Linked DNA regions of Homo sapiens: all the other regions are reported to be linked to region 3. The links are microRNA targets in miRTarBase. Many come from high-throughput screens and were not tested one by one. Region 3 holds a microRNA gene; each other region holds the end of a gene's coding sequence.

Region 1 (5,071 bases), not on the chromosome of region 3:
ACCGCCTCACCTACATCGAGCCCCGGATCCTCAACTCTTGGAAGTCCCTGACAAGCATCACCCTGGCCGGGAACCTGTGGGATTGCGGGCGCAACGTGTGTGCCCTAGCCTCGTGGCTCAACAACTTCCAGGGGCGCTACGATGGCAACTTGCAGTGCGCCAGCCCGGAGTACGCACAGGGCGAGGACGTCCTGGACGCCGTGTACGCCTTCCACCTGTGCGAGGATGGGGCCGAGCCCACCAGCGGCCACCTGCTCTCGGCCGTCACCAACCGCAGTGATCTGGGGCCCCCTGCCAGCTCGGCCACCACGCTCGCGGACGGCGGGGAGGGGCAGCACGACGGCACATTCGAGCCTGCCACCGTGGCTCTTCCAGGCGGCGAGCACGCCGAGAACGCCGTGCAGATCCACAAGGTGGTCACGGGCACCATGGCCCTCATCTTCTCCTTCCTCATCGTGGTCCTGGTGCTCTACGTGTCCTGGAAGTGTTTCCCAGCCAGCCTCAGGCAGCTCAGACAGTGCTTTGTCACGCAGCGCAGGAAGCAAAAGCAGAAACAGACCATGCATCAGATGGCTGCCATGTCTGCCCAGGAATACTACGTTGATTACAAACCGAACCACATTGAGGGAGCCCTGGTGATCATCAACGAGTATGGCTCGTGTACCTGCCACCAGCAGCCCGCGAGGGAATGCGAGGTGTGATTGTCCCAGTGGCTCTCAACCCATGCGCTACCAAATACGCCTGGGCAGCCGGGACGGGCCGGCGGGCACCAGGCTGGGGTCTCCTTGTCTGTGCTCTGATATGCTCCTTGACTGAAACTTTAAGGGGATCTCTCCCAGAGACTTGACATTTTAGCTTTATTGTGTCTTAAAAACAAAAGCGAATTAAAACACAACAAAAAACCCCACCCCACAACCTTCAGGACAGTCTATCTTAAATTTCATATGAGAACTCCTTCCTCCCTTTGAAGATCTGTCCATATTCAGGAATCTGAGAGTGTAAAAAAGGTACCAATCATTGATTTTTTTTTTTTTTGTAAACTAAAATGTTTAAAATAAAATAGCATTTACAGTTTTTACAGACTGGTGTAACCTAAATGAATTGTTACCTGTGTTACAAGAAAAGCAACAGTTAAAATTTCCTTGGTGGGTGGGGAGGGAGTTGTCCAGGGGCCAGAAGGAAAATCCAGGAGCAACGTAGTCAGATTCAATTTGAAATTTTAAAGAAGGGCAAAGAAAGCTTATCAGATTAATGATTTATGTTAATTTACTCCACATGTGTAAGGACTAGAAAAAGAAAAACTGCAAGACCCTTTATATTACTGGGGCAGGGACAGTGCAATCTAACCACCTTCAGGCAACTGAGAGGTGGACTGAGGACTGGGCACCCTTACTCAGCCTTTAAAGCAGAGAGCATTGCAAATGGTTTTTAAAAAGCAATGCCAGACAGTTTCTCCTAGGAACACGAAACATTTTTGCACTTAATGTAACCATCTTTCAAATCACCTCAAAATCTCATCCCCAAATGCCACCTGTTCTTAATTCTCCTGAGTCTTTGATTCACCAGACTTAGTAGCATTTGTGCCCTTCTTGTACCCCCTGTTAAAGGGAGCCCCTCAGCTCACTGCTCTCTTTGGTCTGGCTGAGGGGAAGGAGGCAGAATCCCGATGTTTAGGGCTGAAAGCTGTGCTTCTGGAGCACATTGCTAAGACTGCAGCAAGCTTAGGCTCCCAAACAGTGACAGCACATTCCTAGTTTCTATGGGGAATGAGGAGAAAAACCTACCTTAGGATGAATGCCTGCAGGGTAATGACTTGTAGCAAGAGACTTTAGGGGCAGAGGTGACAGAGCAGTGATGGGGTGGGGAGAGTGGGAGAAGATACTCATTTGATCCTGTGTTTGCATATTTCTGAGATGGGAATAATTTGTTAACCCAGGACAGAAAAGCTGCCTCTTCTCAGATGGCCCTTTTGTGTAATGCTTGCTTTCCCTTTTTTTTTTTTCTGTGTTGAGAGTGATGATTGCTCCTTCTCACCCCTCATAGGTTTCCAGGTCCATCATTGAGATTTCAGTTTCTATTGAACTAAAGAGTGAGGAGGTGGTGGTAGTGGCAGTTGGTGGGTGCAGAGAAGGGAAGGGGAAGGCTGTGTGCATTGGACGGAGGGCTCCTTCATCAGATGACAATTTAAGCAAATGTATGATTGAAATAAACTGTCATGGATGACAGATGCTGAACCAATGTAGCCCATGTCCCTAAGTCTTTCTCTTCCCTCTCTAACGGACACTAAAGAGTTGCATCTTTCTGTTTTTATTTTTCCTTTTTTTTGAGAGAGAGAAGTCCAAATAGCAGGAAGAGGGAATGGGGGGATGGGGAACCACACACTACCATCCCCCAACATGCAAATGTCTCCAGCTACCAATCTTAGGAGGCAAAATCAGCTTTTTGAAATGCAGAATGGTATCACCAGAAGGTTTCCTTAAGCTAAGGGTTGGTGGTAGGTTTCTCTTTTACCTATGGAGAAACCAGTATGCCTAAAAATAGTATTTCTAAGAGTCTCTTTCAAGAGAAATATTTTGCAAATGTCTTTTAAGATGTTAAGCCCTGGGAGACAGCTTCTTACACACACACACACACACACACACACACACACACACACACACACACACACACCCCAACACCCCAGCTCATTTTTCCTGGCCAGGAAACTTCATCTTGCTTTATTTATAATTAAAACATGACATTATGACACACATCATGCACATGACACCCATTCAGACTATTAGTGTTCTAGAAGAGAGGTGCTTTGTTTGATAACTTTGAGGAGGGGGTTTTGAATTTAAGCATAATCATTTGGGTTTGCCTTTCTAAATAGCATACCACTCCAAGAGCAGGGGTAGCAGGAAAAAGATTCTCTCAGGGATGTGCCTTACCTAAAACCCTACTAAAGCGACCTCCTCTAGAAGACGGCATACCTTTTTTAGAAAACAAAAAATGTAGCAACTGAAGGAGGGCTCCTTGGATTCCGTGAACTTAACCATCTCATAGGAAGGCTACAGGAATCCAGCGCCCAAAGCTGCTTTGGCTTGGTGCATTAAAGAGCTGTGTGGGTGTGCTTACAGGGAAAGCTTTCAGAAGCAAAACCTTTCTGGCAAGCATCAGAACCACAAGTCCCCTCCTACCCTCTAGAAATCTGAATATTGGAAACTGTAGTTTATCTCCTATCCCCAAGACATTTTTATCTTTCACTCTTCTTGTTTCAAGGTGGCCATAAGACAGAGAGAGAATAATCGTGCTTTGTTTTATGCTACTCCTCCCACCCTGCCCATGATTAAACATCATGTATGTAGAAGATCTTAAGTCCATACGCATTTCATGAAGAACCATTGGAAAGAGGAATCTGCAATCTGGGAGCTTAAGAGCAAATGATGACCATAGAAAGCTATGTTCTTACTTTGTGTGTGTGTCTGTATGTTTCTGCGTTGTGTGTCTTTGTAGGCAAGCAAACGTTGTCTACACAAACGGGAATTTAGCTCACATCATTTCATGCCCCTGTGCCTCTAGCTCTGGAGATTGGTGGGGGGAGGTGGGGGGAAACGGCAGGAATAAGGGAAAGTGGTAGTTTTAACTAAGGTTTTGTAACACTTGAAATCTTTTCTTTCTCAAATTAATTAATCTTTAAGCTTCAAGAAACTTGCTCTGACCCCTCTAAGCAAACTACTAAGCATTTAAAAGAGAATCTAATTTTTAAAGGTGTAGCACCTTTTTTTTATTCTTCCCACAGAGGGTGCTAATCTCATTATGCTGTGCTATCTGAAAAGAACTTAAGGCCACAATTCACGTCTCGTCCTGGGCATTGTGATGGATTGACCCTCCATTTGCAGTACCTTCCCAGCTGATTAAAGTTCAGCAGTGGTATTGAGGTTTTTCGAATATTTATATAGAAAAAAAGTCTTTTCACATGACAAATGACACTCTCACACCAGTCTTAGCCCTAGTAGTTTTTTAGGTTGGACCAGAGGAAGCAGGTTAAATGAGACCTGTCCTCTGCTGCACTCAGAAAAAATAGGCAGTCCCTGATGCTCAGATCTTAGCCTTGATATTAATAGTTGAGACCACCTACCCACAATGCAGCCTATACTCCCAAGACTACAAAGTTACCATCGCAAAGGAAAGGTTATTCCAGTAAAAGGAAATAGTTTTCTCAACCATTTAAAAATATTCTTCTGAACTCATCAAAGTAGAAGAGCCCCCAACCTTTTCTCTCTGCCTTCAAGAAGGCAGACATTTGGTATGATTTAGCATCAACAACACATTTATGAGTATATGTAAGTAATCAGAGGGGCAAATGCCACTTGTTATTCCTCCCAAGTTTTCCAAGCAAGTACACACAGATCTCTGGTAGGATTAGGGGCCACTTGTGTTTCCGGCTTATTTTAGTCGACTTGTCAGCAAGTTTGATGCCTAGTCTATCTGACATGGCCCAGTAGAACAGGGCATTGATGGATCACATGAGATGGTAGAAGGAACATCATCACATACCCCTCTCACAGAGAAAATTATCAAAGAACCAGAAATTATATCTGTTTTGGAGCAAGAGTGTCATAATGTTTCAGGGTAGTCAAAATAAACATAAATTATCTCCTCTAGATGAGTGGCGATGTTGGCTGATTTGGGTCTGCCATTGACAGAATGTCAAATAAAAAGGAATTAGCTAGAATATGACCATTAAATGTGCTTCTGAAATATATTTTGAGATAGGTTTAGAATGTCAAAAAAAAGGAATTAGCTAGAATATGACCATTAAATGTGCTTCTGAAATATACACACACACTCCTACCTCTCAATCTATCTCTGTATATATAACAGCACACACACAAATATGCACACATGTGTGTGTGTGTATATATATATATAATATATAATATATAAAACCACATAGTACCACACACACACACATATATAACCACACACACACACCCATACACGCGCAGGCAGGTGACCATTATGTAACTACCTTCTAGCACTAATCATCCTAATACTTTCTTCTTCATAATCAAACTTTTATTCAGGA
Region 2 (5,071 bases), not on the chromosome of region 3:
ACTGTTCTGTGTGCTGTAACCCTGGATATGTGCCATTGTACATTTGTCAAAACCCATAGCATGTGGAATAACGAGAGGGAATCCTAACGTCAGCATGGGCTTTGGGTTTGTGGTGTATCACTTTGGATGATGGTGTATCACTGTAGGTTCATCAGTTGTAACAAAAGGACGGCTCTGGTGAGGAATGTTGGTAGTGGGGAGGCTGCGGTGTTGGGGGGCATGGATTATATGGGAAATCTCTGCACTTTCTGCTCAGTTTTGCTGTGAACCTAAAACTACCCTAAAAAATACTCTAGTAAAAAAAATAAATAAATAGAGACCCAGCATGGTGGCTCACACCTGTAATCTCAGTGCTTCAGGAGGTCAAGGAGGGAAGATCATTTGAGGCTAGGAGTTTGAGGCCTGGGCAATATAGCAAGACCCTGTCTCTACAAAAAATAAAAATACAGAAACTTAGCTGAGTATGATGGTGTGAGCCTGTAGTTCTAGCTACCTGGGAGCATTGCTTGAAGCCAGGAGTTTGAGGCTGCAGTGAGCTATGATCGCACCACAGCACTACAGCATAGGCAACAGAGTGAGACTCTGCCTCTATTAAAATATATATATTTCTAGGGAATCATCATTAAAAAGGTTGTCACTGCAGACTCTGTCTTCATAATTCGGTAATAATGTTTCTATAGTCCATCTATTTCCAACAAACATATGAAATGGTTTACAGTAAAAGATGTATGTAATAGTACAAATAAAAAGCATGTTTAAAAAAGTAAAGCTTTATGGAAAAAAGAGAGGGACAGTTAATCCTAAACCTGGGCTAATGTGATTTCTGGTATTGAATAGATTTACTTTTGAATTTCCTGAAAGTCAAGGCAAAATTTAAAATATCAAACATTAAAGTTTTTATTAAAGTTTGTTGTTGAAAAACAAACCAGCTACCATTTTTAGGAGGCTCAAACTTTTTCCTGATAGTCATTTTTAAATATATGAAGAGAACATCCATGCAATGACAGTCTTCAATTCCAGTTTTATCGGTGGCTGGGGCCGGGCAGTGCTCCCTGTGGCTCTCCAGTCTCTGCCGGGGGCCGGGGGTTGGGAGCAGGATGGAGGCAGGGCTGGGGGAAGATGCCTCACGGTGATCCCTCCTGTCGTGCTTCCTCCCTCCTCTGAGGCTAAGGACTCCTGGGGAGAGAGTGCAGCACGGAGACCGCACAGCCGGCCCCATGCACAAAGCTGTGCCCGGTGCCTTCCTAAAGAGCGCGCCGCCTGCAGAACGGGAGGCCTCCTCCCTGCTTCGTCTTCTGCGCCCCCTCCTGCTCTCTGGATCCTCTGGCTGCTCTGATCATTTTATCTTGGATGAGGGTTCAACCTTTGAATTCCCTAAGACAGTATTTTAACTGACTCCTTACGATAACTTGTTTATTATGGTTTGAAACCGCGCCCACACTGAAAGGGGACCAGTGCTGGCAGAACTTCAGGTACTGGTGAGAGGTTTGTAAAGGGATAGGAGCATCCAAGCCGAGATGAAAAATACACCAAGCCTTCTGCTGACCTTCCGCCGCCAACAGCACCTTCTCTCCTAAGGATGCTCCCTGGCCGCCAGACTTTCTGTGCAGTGCGCAGCCTGTGTTCACTGACAGGAAAGAGCGATTTCAGCGCGTGTCATTCTAAACAATGATTTCTTCTCCGTGTCTATGAAAAAACAAGGTTTTTTTTTCTTTCGGATAAACAAAACAAAAACCCAAAACCAACAGATAATCTAACCTTAATCACAAAGGTGGTCCGAGTTATTTAGTAGGTACAGAGTAGAAAGATATGGTTAAGGCTGGGCGCGGTGGCTCACGCCTGTAATCCCAGCTCTTTGGGAGGCCCAGGGGGGCGGATCACCTGAGATCAGGAGTTCAAGACCAGCCTGGCCAACATGGTGAAACCCCACCTCTACTAAAAATACAAAAATTAGCCGGGCGTGGTGGTGCGCGCCTGTAATCTCAGCTACTCAGGAGGCTGAGGCAGGAGAATCACTTGAACCCAGAAGGCGGAGGTTGCAGTGAGCCGAGATCGCGCCATTGCACTTCAGCCTGGGCAACAGAGTGAGACTCCGTCTCAAAAAAAAAAAAAAAAAAAAAAAGATATGGTTAAATTTGCACAGCTACACTCTCAAATAAGAACATGATATGTTAATTTGTATATCGTTTTAAAATAGCACTGGCTCTCCGCCAAACACATAAGAGATGGGATTTTCTAGCTTTGTAGTCATCTTCTGTACTGTCTCTGGTCAGCATAGTGGCTTTATGCACGTCTGTATCTCGGCTTTCACTTCTCAGACGGGATTCCCTGCAAGTGGCACCTACTCAGTGAATTCTTCTCTGCCGGAAGACCCTGCAGGGCTCGTGCCTGCCCAGGTTGGCTCTTCCCTCACCTCCAGGCGTTAGCTCAGTACACCTGGCCACAGTCAGAGCATCCTTGGCCAGCGCAGGCTCCTGTGCAAAGTGGGGGGCCTGTATCCCCAGCCCCACACTGAGTTCCCTGCTCACACTTCCTCTGGGCTCCGCGGGTGGGCCACACCTGGTTCAGGATCTCCCTAGGCAGCCGTTGCCTCAGGAGAATGCTGGAGGACATTGTTCCCTTTTCCTCCCTCCACTCGGTGCCCCAGGGCTGTGCTGAGGCGCCCGAACCCTTAAGGTGTGGCTGGTGCCAACTGAGACCTGCTGTGAGTACAAGACACCCTGCATTTCAAATATTGGGTACACATAAAGGAATGTGAAATCTCAATCATTTTCATTCTGATTACACATTGAAACGATAGTATTTTGGATACATTGGGATAAATAAAAGATTATTAAAACTAATTTTACCTGCTCCTTTTCAAAGTTTTACATGTAGCTACTAGAAACTTTAACAGTACTCATGTGGCTGGCAGATCTTGCTGTTGGCAGTGTTGCCGAGAGGGACAGCAGGATGGAGGCAGCCCCCCCAGAGGCAGCTCCCAAAGTCCCCATTTCCAGGTCACCTTCCAGCTCCCAAGGGTGAAGGAGGCCAGGTGGCTCCCCCAGCAGTGCGCCTCCCTGTTCGCCGCGATGCTGACAGGACTGAAAGCACACACAGCAAGTGGGGTGTACGGCTGGCTGAGGGTTCCACGTCTCACAATGCATGTCTTTACCTCTGGTTTTCTGCCACAGACTCTGGATCCCAGGGGTCCAAAGGGAATTGCAAAGGGGAAGAATTCAGTCTTCCTTTTCTCCTCTGTGGCTTCCTGTGGCTGTGTTTGCAACTAGACTGTTCCAGACAGCTCCACAAAAGACAGCTTCCTCCCTGGTTGCTTGCTCACTTATGTGCCCAGTGCCTGGGCCCGGCAGCCACACTTCTGTCTCTGCTGCATTTGTACTTGAGTTTCCTGAACACCCTCTAAGTGGCCAACACTAGTAATGAATGCAGAAACATGAAAGAATATTCTCTCAATACATTTCAGGGTGGGTACTCATCAGATGAACACATTTTCAGTTACTAAGTTAATGACAACAATTGAAGACATTGGAAATTTTTATTCATCTTTGCTTTACAACAGAACCAAAAGCGTCAACTTAAGAATTCATTTTACCTGCTGGTTTCCACAAGCTAGTTATGTGAACCATGTTTTACAAACAATAATAATATTACAACAATAATTATGGAGAAGTTAATTGGATAATAGAGCTTTTCCACAATTCAAGTAGAAACACAGAAGAAACTGGATAATTTTAAGTCCTCTAACTCAAGACATGCTGGTGCAAGCCTGGCCTGCGAGGCCCCATTGCCTGCGTCTCCCGGGGGCCTTAGGAAAGACTGACAGTTCGCGTGCCTCTGGGGAAATATCTACGCTACAGAAAATCTTTAGGTGTTCAGTAGTTCTCTAGAGATTTTAAGTGGTATCACAACAGCCCATCCGGAGAACTTATTTCTAAATAATTTGAAAAACAAACAAGAAACCATTAGGGTTTTCATGCAGAGCAGCCTCCAGAGCAACATTCTCTGAGAGGAAGAGTCGACCAGAGTGAGCTCTCCGCAGGGCCTGCTCTGCCCTCCCCTGCCCCGCTCTGCCCTTCGCAGGGCCTGCTGTGCCCTCCCCTGCCCTGCTCTGCCCTCCGCCGCCCTGCAGACACTCTCCCAGGACTATGGGAACCCAAGCTCTCTCCTCTGGGCCAGACAAACAATGCTCAGGCCATGCACCTCCTCAGAAAAGGGGGCATGGGTTGCCACATCTTCAGAGAGCTCTGAGTAAACTCCCTGGGCCCAGGGATGCAGGGGAGCCTGGTTGTTGCTGCAGAGCCAGCCTCATGTTCCCCTAAACATCCTTTCTAAACTAGAGATTTCTAGACTAAGACAAAATCAACATGCATTCACACTTTATACTCTACTCCATTTTCAATCCCTTAGATTTAAACTCAGTGTGGAGAATCTGTGATAAGCACCTTCCAAATTCCTCCAGGATCATCTGCTCTGCCAGGCACTTGGAGCAGTGTTCTTTCTCGGCCTCTTCTCCCTGAGCAAGCAGGCAGGCGCATGTGGCCTCCACCACCTCCCAGGAGATGCATGAGGAAGGCCGCCTGTCAGAAACAGAGCAGTTAAAGGCCGCTCAACAGTGCACCATTTCTACCTACAGTACTATTTATATTCAACAGAACATTGCTTGTCCATGCTATTTTAAAGAACATCATCCACTAAAATCTAACGTTGTCTTCCTCATACTGGAAACTATTAGGCTGGGCACAGTGGTCTGTAATCCCAGCACCTTGGGAGGCCAAGGCAGGAGGATGGTCTGAAGCCAGGAGTTTGAGACCAGCCTGGGCAACAAAGTGAGACCCTTTTTTTTTTTTTGATACTGAGTCCTGCTCTGTTGCCAGGCTGGAGTGCAATGGCACGATCTCGGCTCACTGCAACCTCCAACTCCCTGGTTCAAGTGATTCTCCTGCCTCAGCCTCCTGAGTAGCTGGGATCACAGGCATGCACCACCACACCTGGCTAATTTTTGTATTTTTAGTAGAGACAGGGTTTTGCCATGTTGGCCAGGATGGTCTCGATCTCCTGACCTCATGATCTG
Region 3 (5,072 bases):
CGCGGCTGAGTCCTAGGAGGCCTCCTGGCCAGGCTCCCTCCGCGCTCTGGTCCCATTTCCCGGGAGGTCCGGCCGCGGCCGGCAGAGAACTCTCCGGCCTGTGGAGATCCGGCCTCAGGCCGCGCCGCAGCCTCCTCTCGGCAGCGCATTTCATTGGCCCGGGCAGAGGCCCATGCAGTCCCACAGCGTTCGGAGTTGGGAGTTCGTGGACCAGAGAAAAGGAAGCCCCGGATGCCTCGCCCACCACGGTGGCTGTACTGATCGCTGCCCTGTCAGTGGCCTTCTGTGCGACCTTCCGTGAGCCACTGGGCCTTTTTACACCATTTCTAGGTGTAAAATGAAAGGAATGGGGTGAGAAGTATCCGAGATTCTCTAAGATTCTGGCTTCCAAGCTGCAGCAGATTCTCGGGATCTCCAACGCCTTTTTGGATGAAGAAAGAGTAGCACAAACCGGAGACAAAAATGAAGCCCAAACGTGGGGAGCCAGTGGCCAGAGGAGGCTTGGGGAAGGCCTTCCTGGGGCACAGGAATGGAGGAGACGAGGGACTGAGAAGGCCCCAGACCCGTCCGGCTACTCCAGGTCCAGGCAGGCCAGAAGACGTTGATGGGCCCAGGCACCAATTTTGAGTCTGTGCCTTGGGCTTTAAGTGTCCAAAGGGGATTCGAACATTGCTCTAGTAGGGGCAGGCATTCGTACCAGGAGGCCGAAATCGGATGGGTTGGCCTCTGGCCTCTGGCCTCTCTCCGAGGGCCGTTTAAGGAAGGTGTGGGATGGGCTCCTGGAGATTAGAACTGGCATGCTCATCGCCCTCCGCAGCCCTGCTGCCGCGATCTTTCTCTGAAGCGGGAGGTTTGCATCAACAGATTTTCGTAGAAAGCGGGAAAATGCCGCGTTGCCCTCCCGCACAGACTCCTCCTTCATCAGACCCTCAACTCGGGTTTCAGACCTGCCCAGATGGTATGGGACAGTGGTGTTTAACAACAACACTCATCTGAACTGTGTAGACACTGCTGGGAAGCTGCAAAGCCACCCTGGCAAGTGAAGGACTAGTTCTTGCAACACAGCAAACGGGTAGGGGTGGTGGGAGGGGAAGATCGAAGCCCGGGGCCCAGGGTTTGCCCACACCCGTTGGCCGGTGAGGGAGGAAGGCAGGGAGTGCAGGGCAAGGGGGCAGGAAGTGCTGCTCCGGTTTCCTCCGAAATGAGGTCACCATCAGCACACAGGCTCCCAGGTGCATTGGGAAGGGAGGGACGGCCCAAGGGATGCAGCCCATAGCCTCGTGAATCCCGAAACACTCTAGTCACCCTTCACCAGCCTCCTGTCAGAAAAAAAGGGAAACTGGCCTTTCAAAATGGAGGTGGGGTACAAAGGGATTCAGAAAACCTTCTGCCCATGATTATCTCTGAGGAGAACCGGGGACCAAAGTAGGAGGGCAGCTGACTTTCCCTGCCTGGTCTTTTGTGTGTATTTTTTATTTAATTTTACTGTGAATGCTAACACACTCACAGGGTTCACAATTCCAAAGGTATACAGTGAAAAGTCTCCCTCTACCATCCACCTCAGCCACACAGTTCTCCTCCCCAGAGCCAAGGGGTTTTCCTTTTGTACTGTTTGAATTTTCACCATTTACATATATACCCTATATTCAAAATAATTTTGTTAGGCAAAGAACAAAAAAGGTTTGCAGGAGTGAAGATGGAAAAAATATTTCTATTTTTACAAGAGGGCTGGGCAAAGGCTGGGAGAAGAGGGGCCGTGAAAATCACTAAGGGAGAGGCTCCAGGGAGTGAAGTGAGCCAAGATGTACGTAAGGTGGCCTGGGGTCCAGCTCTGCCTTCTGAGCTGTGTGACCCTTAGGGAGTCACTTCAGATCCCCAGATCTGTTTCCTCTCATGTAAAAGGGTGAGGGGATGGGGGTCAGGGCTGGGTGGTGGTGCCAGTTCCTTTCAGCCTGTCTATCATAGCACTCACATACCCATATACTTAGAAAGCCCCCCTACCAATCGGGGAGTCTGAGCCTACCTTTCTTCCTTTCTTCCCTGAAGCCGGGCAGGGTCCCTTCCTTGGTCTACAGCCACTCGCTGGGGAGCTTGGGAGGTTTCCCAAGCTACAGGGGCCCTGAGCTTCAGGACAAGCCAAGGCATCAGGGTGGAAAGTGACCTGAAGGCAGATGAGAAACTCGAGAGGGACCCTAGCACTGTGTGGGGCCGGGACCCCCACGCACTGAGCAGGGGCAAGCCCCACTCCCTGAGCCCAGTTAAGAGGGGCTGGGAGCCTGAGTGGCCGGGTGTGCTGCATTGGGTTGCCATGGGAACGAATTCAGATTTCCCCCAATTGCTTTTTTATTTGCTAGACATTGTAATACATCTTATGTCGTGACTTCTTGGGGCAGGGAGGAGGGGGAGCTCTGGGAGCTTGCCTGCACCTTAACCTCGCGGGAAGTTGGGGAGGCTTGGGCAGGAGCAGCCCGGTCGGGGCTGGCGTAGAGGTAGCGGGAGACTGAGCTCGGTTCCTCCCGCCCACCCGCCGGCTCTTGGTTTGTATGCAGGGCAGGGCCGACCCGTCGGGGAGGGAGGCCCCTGCCCTGGCCCCTTGCCATTGAGCGCACTCCCCGCCAGTTCTGCTCCGCTTCACGCTGCACACAGACCCCCCAACTGCACACAAAGGCAGCTGCCAGAGCCCGTGAAAAGTGATCAAATTATCAAGAACTTGACCTCACCGAGGGGCGAAGCTCCGGCAACCCCCCAGCCGTATGCTAATGGCGCTCAGGGGCTGACTCGTCGAATAATTCGATAAAGGCCGCATTGTTAGCGGCAGGGCAGCCCCCAGCCCACCCCATTCACTCCCTCCACCCACCCCCTACCGACCGCTGTCTCTCTCCCATCGCATTTGCATCCCAAAATCCCCGTCCACGGCTCCGGGAGCGGATTGTTCCAGCCTGATTTATGGGGTGAAGGCGAAGGCTGGCGCCTTCCCCTTCCAGCGACCCCTCTGCAACCCCAACCCCCTCCCTCTCCCCGGCCCGCTCCACTTTGGGGTTCCTGCTCCGGCGCTGGGGGATAGGGGTGGGGGACCAGGAAAGAGGAGGACTGGGGGAAAGCTGGCACTGCAAGTGTCCCCAGAGAGAGAGCCGAGGTCAGGTACCTGGTCGGGGCGCGGCCGCTCCGTCGAGCTGGAGTCCGCTGGGCCGGCGCTGGGCTCCTCTCGGCTCCTCTGGCTCTTGCGGGCCGGGCCGGGGCGGTCGGTGGGGCGGGCGCTCGCACGCAGAAGTTGTGAGAATCATTTCTACTTTCGGTTATCTAGCTTTATGACGGCTCTGTGGCACTCATACAGCTAGATAACCAAAGAGAGAAACGGGCCTCCCTTAGCCAGTGCCGCTGCCGCGCCGTGGGCTCCACGTGCTGCTGCCTGCCGAGCGCGGGAGCCTGAGCGGACGCCGTGCCCGGATCCTGGGGCGCACGCGGAGAGCCAGAGGGGATGGACAGACACACGCACACGCTGACTCCCGCCACCTAGGCCCGCAGCCCCCGCCCAGTTCCCTTCCTCCCTCGCCCTCCCGGCGCATTTCTCCCCTGCTCCCCGTTCCGTGCGTCCTGGCACCGGCGCTGCCGGCCTGCCTCGACGGCGTCCCGGGGCTCACGTAGGGCACCCGCGCGGAGCGCTTAGAGAGCCTCGAGCGCCCCGGCCGCCCCCAGCGCACTGGACCGCCGGCCCTCCTCTCGCAGGCTAATCGCCCCGCGGGGAAGTGACGTCAGTCCAGGGATCGGCCAATCACAGGCTCCCATTCAAATCCCAGCCCCCTTCCCGCGCTCCGCACCACCCAGCCTTACAATGGCCTCGGCGTTCACGGCTTCCCCGCCCCGAGGGCAAGGAAGCGCACCCTCTGCCCTCAGAAGCCTCAGGGCTGCGCACCGTCTGATCTTTCACCCAAACTCCTCCGTCTTCCTCCCAGGGCCCAGGGAGCCCAGTACCCACTGCGGACCATCAGAGTTTGGGAGACAAGAATGCTCGAGTGACAAGGTTTAGGGACGCGTGTGATAGGACGTGGCGATCTCCACAGGAGGGCCGAGAGCGCTCACGGAGAGGCCGAGAGCAGAAGCCATTTCACCTTTAACTTCTCTCTTCCTTTCCCCATGCCCAGCACTTGCAGTAGATCTAGCCCACGCGGCAGAGACCAGGGATTGGAGGAAGAATTAAGTGTCCCGGTGAGCGCAGGTCGGTGTCCCACCCATAACACCTGGCACTCAGAGGTTCCTCAGCTATGCTCCACTTGGGCGAGGCCCTGGCCTGGGCCCTGAGTACCAAGCTGCTAGGTCCCTTCTCTCTCTCGGTTCCTAGACACACTAGGAGTGTAAAACCGATTGTGCCAAGCACCTTGGAGAAGTCCTAGGCTCTCTCTTGGCTCCTGGTTAAATTCATATTTCACCAAAAATTAAAGCACAAAGCCATGCCTCCACTCTCCTTCTTCAGCTCTCAGCACACACCTGGCTACTCACTCCAAGTAGCCGCAACAGTGGAAAGGGACTGCCACCTTGGGTCTCCCGGAATCACCCCTAAACTGAGCTGGCAGCTGAATTGGTGGTACCATTGCAGCCTTCCAGATGTGAGTGGCCTATGGGTACCACTTCGTGCTCATGCCAGCCATCACCCCCTTCTTCCTTGCTGCTGTGGCTACCCTCCAGCCTTGAGCCCTATGATTCACCTCCGCCTGTCAGCCATCCCCAAGATGCAAAGGATTCAGTATGAAAAATGCAATATCTTTGCTCCTAGATACCCCCAGAAAAATCTTAAGCTCAACAGCTAGGGAGAGATTTTATGTGGGACTGGGCAAGTGGATTCCCAGATTCCAGCAGTCAATACACGGGAGTCACAGAGACTCTCACTGCTGCTGTCTACAGTGAGCACTGTGGGGTTAGGTGGAGGTACCCGTGCAGATTCATTTTAGTGGGGTCTGGGGCACTGGGCCACTCTGAGCCAGGTAAAACCCTTGCAGGATGGGTTGGAAAGAAGGGGCCAAAAGTGGATGGTTTGGAAAAGATTTCATGATTTTACTAAAAATCTCTTCCTTCCA

Evidence for each region. The annotated mature microRNA hsa-miR-9-5p reads UCUUUGGUUAUCUAGCUGUAUGA and lies in region 3 at 3,327-3,349, opposite strand. An mRNA with a match to its seed (bases 2 to 7 or 8) in the 3' UTR can be bound and repressed. Matches are read on the target gene's strand: a 7mer-m8 pairs with bases 2 to 8, a 7mer-A1 pairs with bases 2 to 7 and ends in A, and an 8mer does both.
Region 1: the mRNA of LRRTM1 is a reported target of hsa-miR-9-5p. The part of its 3' UTR that is shown has no 7-base or 8-base seed match.
Region 2: miRTarBase lists TESMIN as a target of hsa-miR-9-5p. The part of its 3' UTR that is shown has no 7-base or 8-base seed match.

The regions. Positions count from the first base shown.
Region 1 is chr2:80,297,881-80,302,951 of GRCh38, reverse strand. It overlaps LRRTM1 (leucine rich repeat transmembrane neuronal 1), which reads left to right. Exons shown (of 2, transcript NM_178839.5): 2 at 1-1,074. The coding sequence ends at 701. All of the region lies in intron 7 of CTNNA2 (catenin alpha 2), which reads right to left. Among named protein-coding and RNA genes, the nearest start is that of LRRTM1, 4.3 kb to the left of the region's middle.
Region 2 is chr11:68,703,924-68,708,994 of GRCh38, forward strand. It overlaps TESMIN (testis expressed metallothionein like protein), which reads right to left. Exons shown (of 10, transcript NM_004923.3): 10 at 3,517-4,577. The coding sequence ends at 4,385. Among named protein-coding and RNA genes, the nearest start is that of GAL, 22 kb to the left of the region's middle. RefSeq lists an enhancer at 2,796-3,554.
Region 3 is chr15:89,366,309-89,371,380 of GRCh38, reverse strand. It overlaps MIR9-3 (microRNA 9-3), which reads right to left and starts at 3,364; the gene lies at 3,275-3,364. All of the region lies in intron 1 of MIR9-3HG (MIR9-3 host gene), which reads right to left. RefSeq lists enhancers at 1-451, 452-1,334, 3,144-3,757.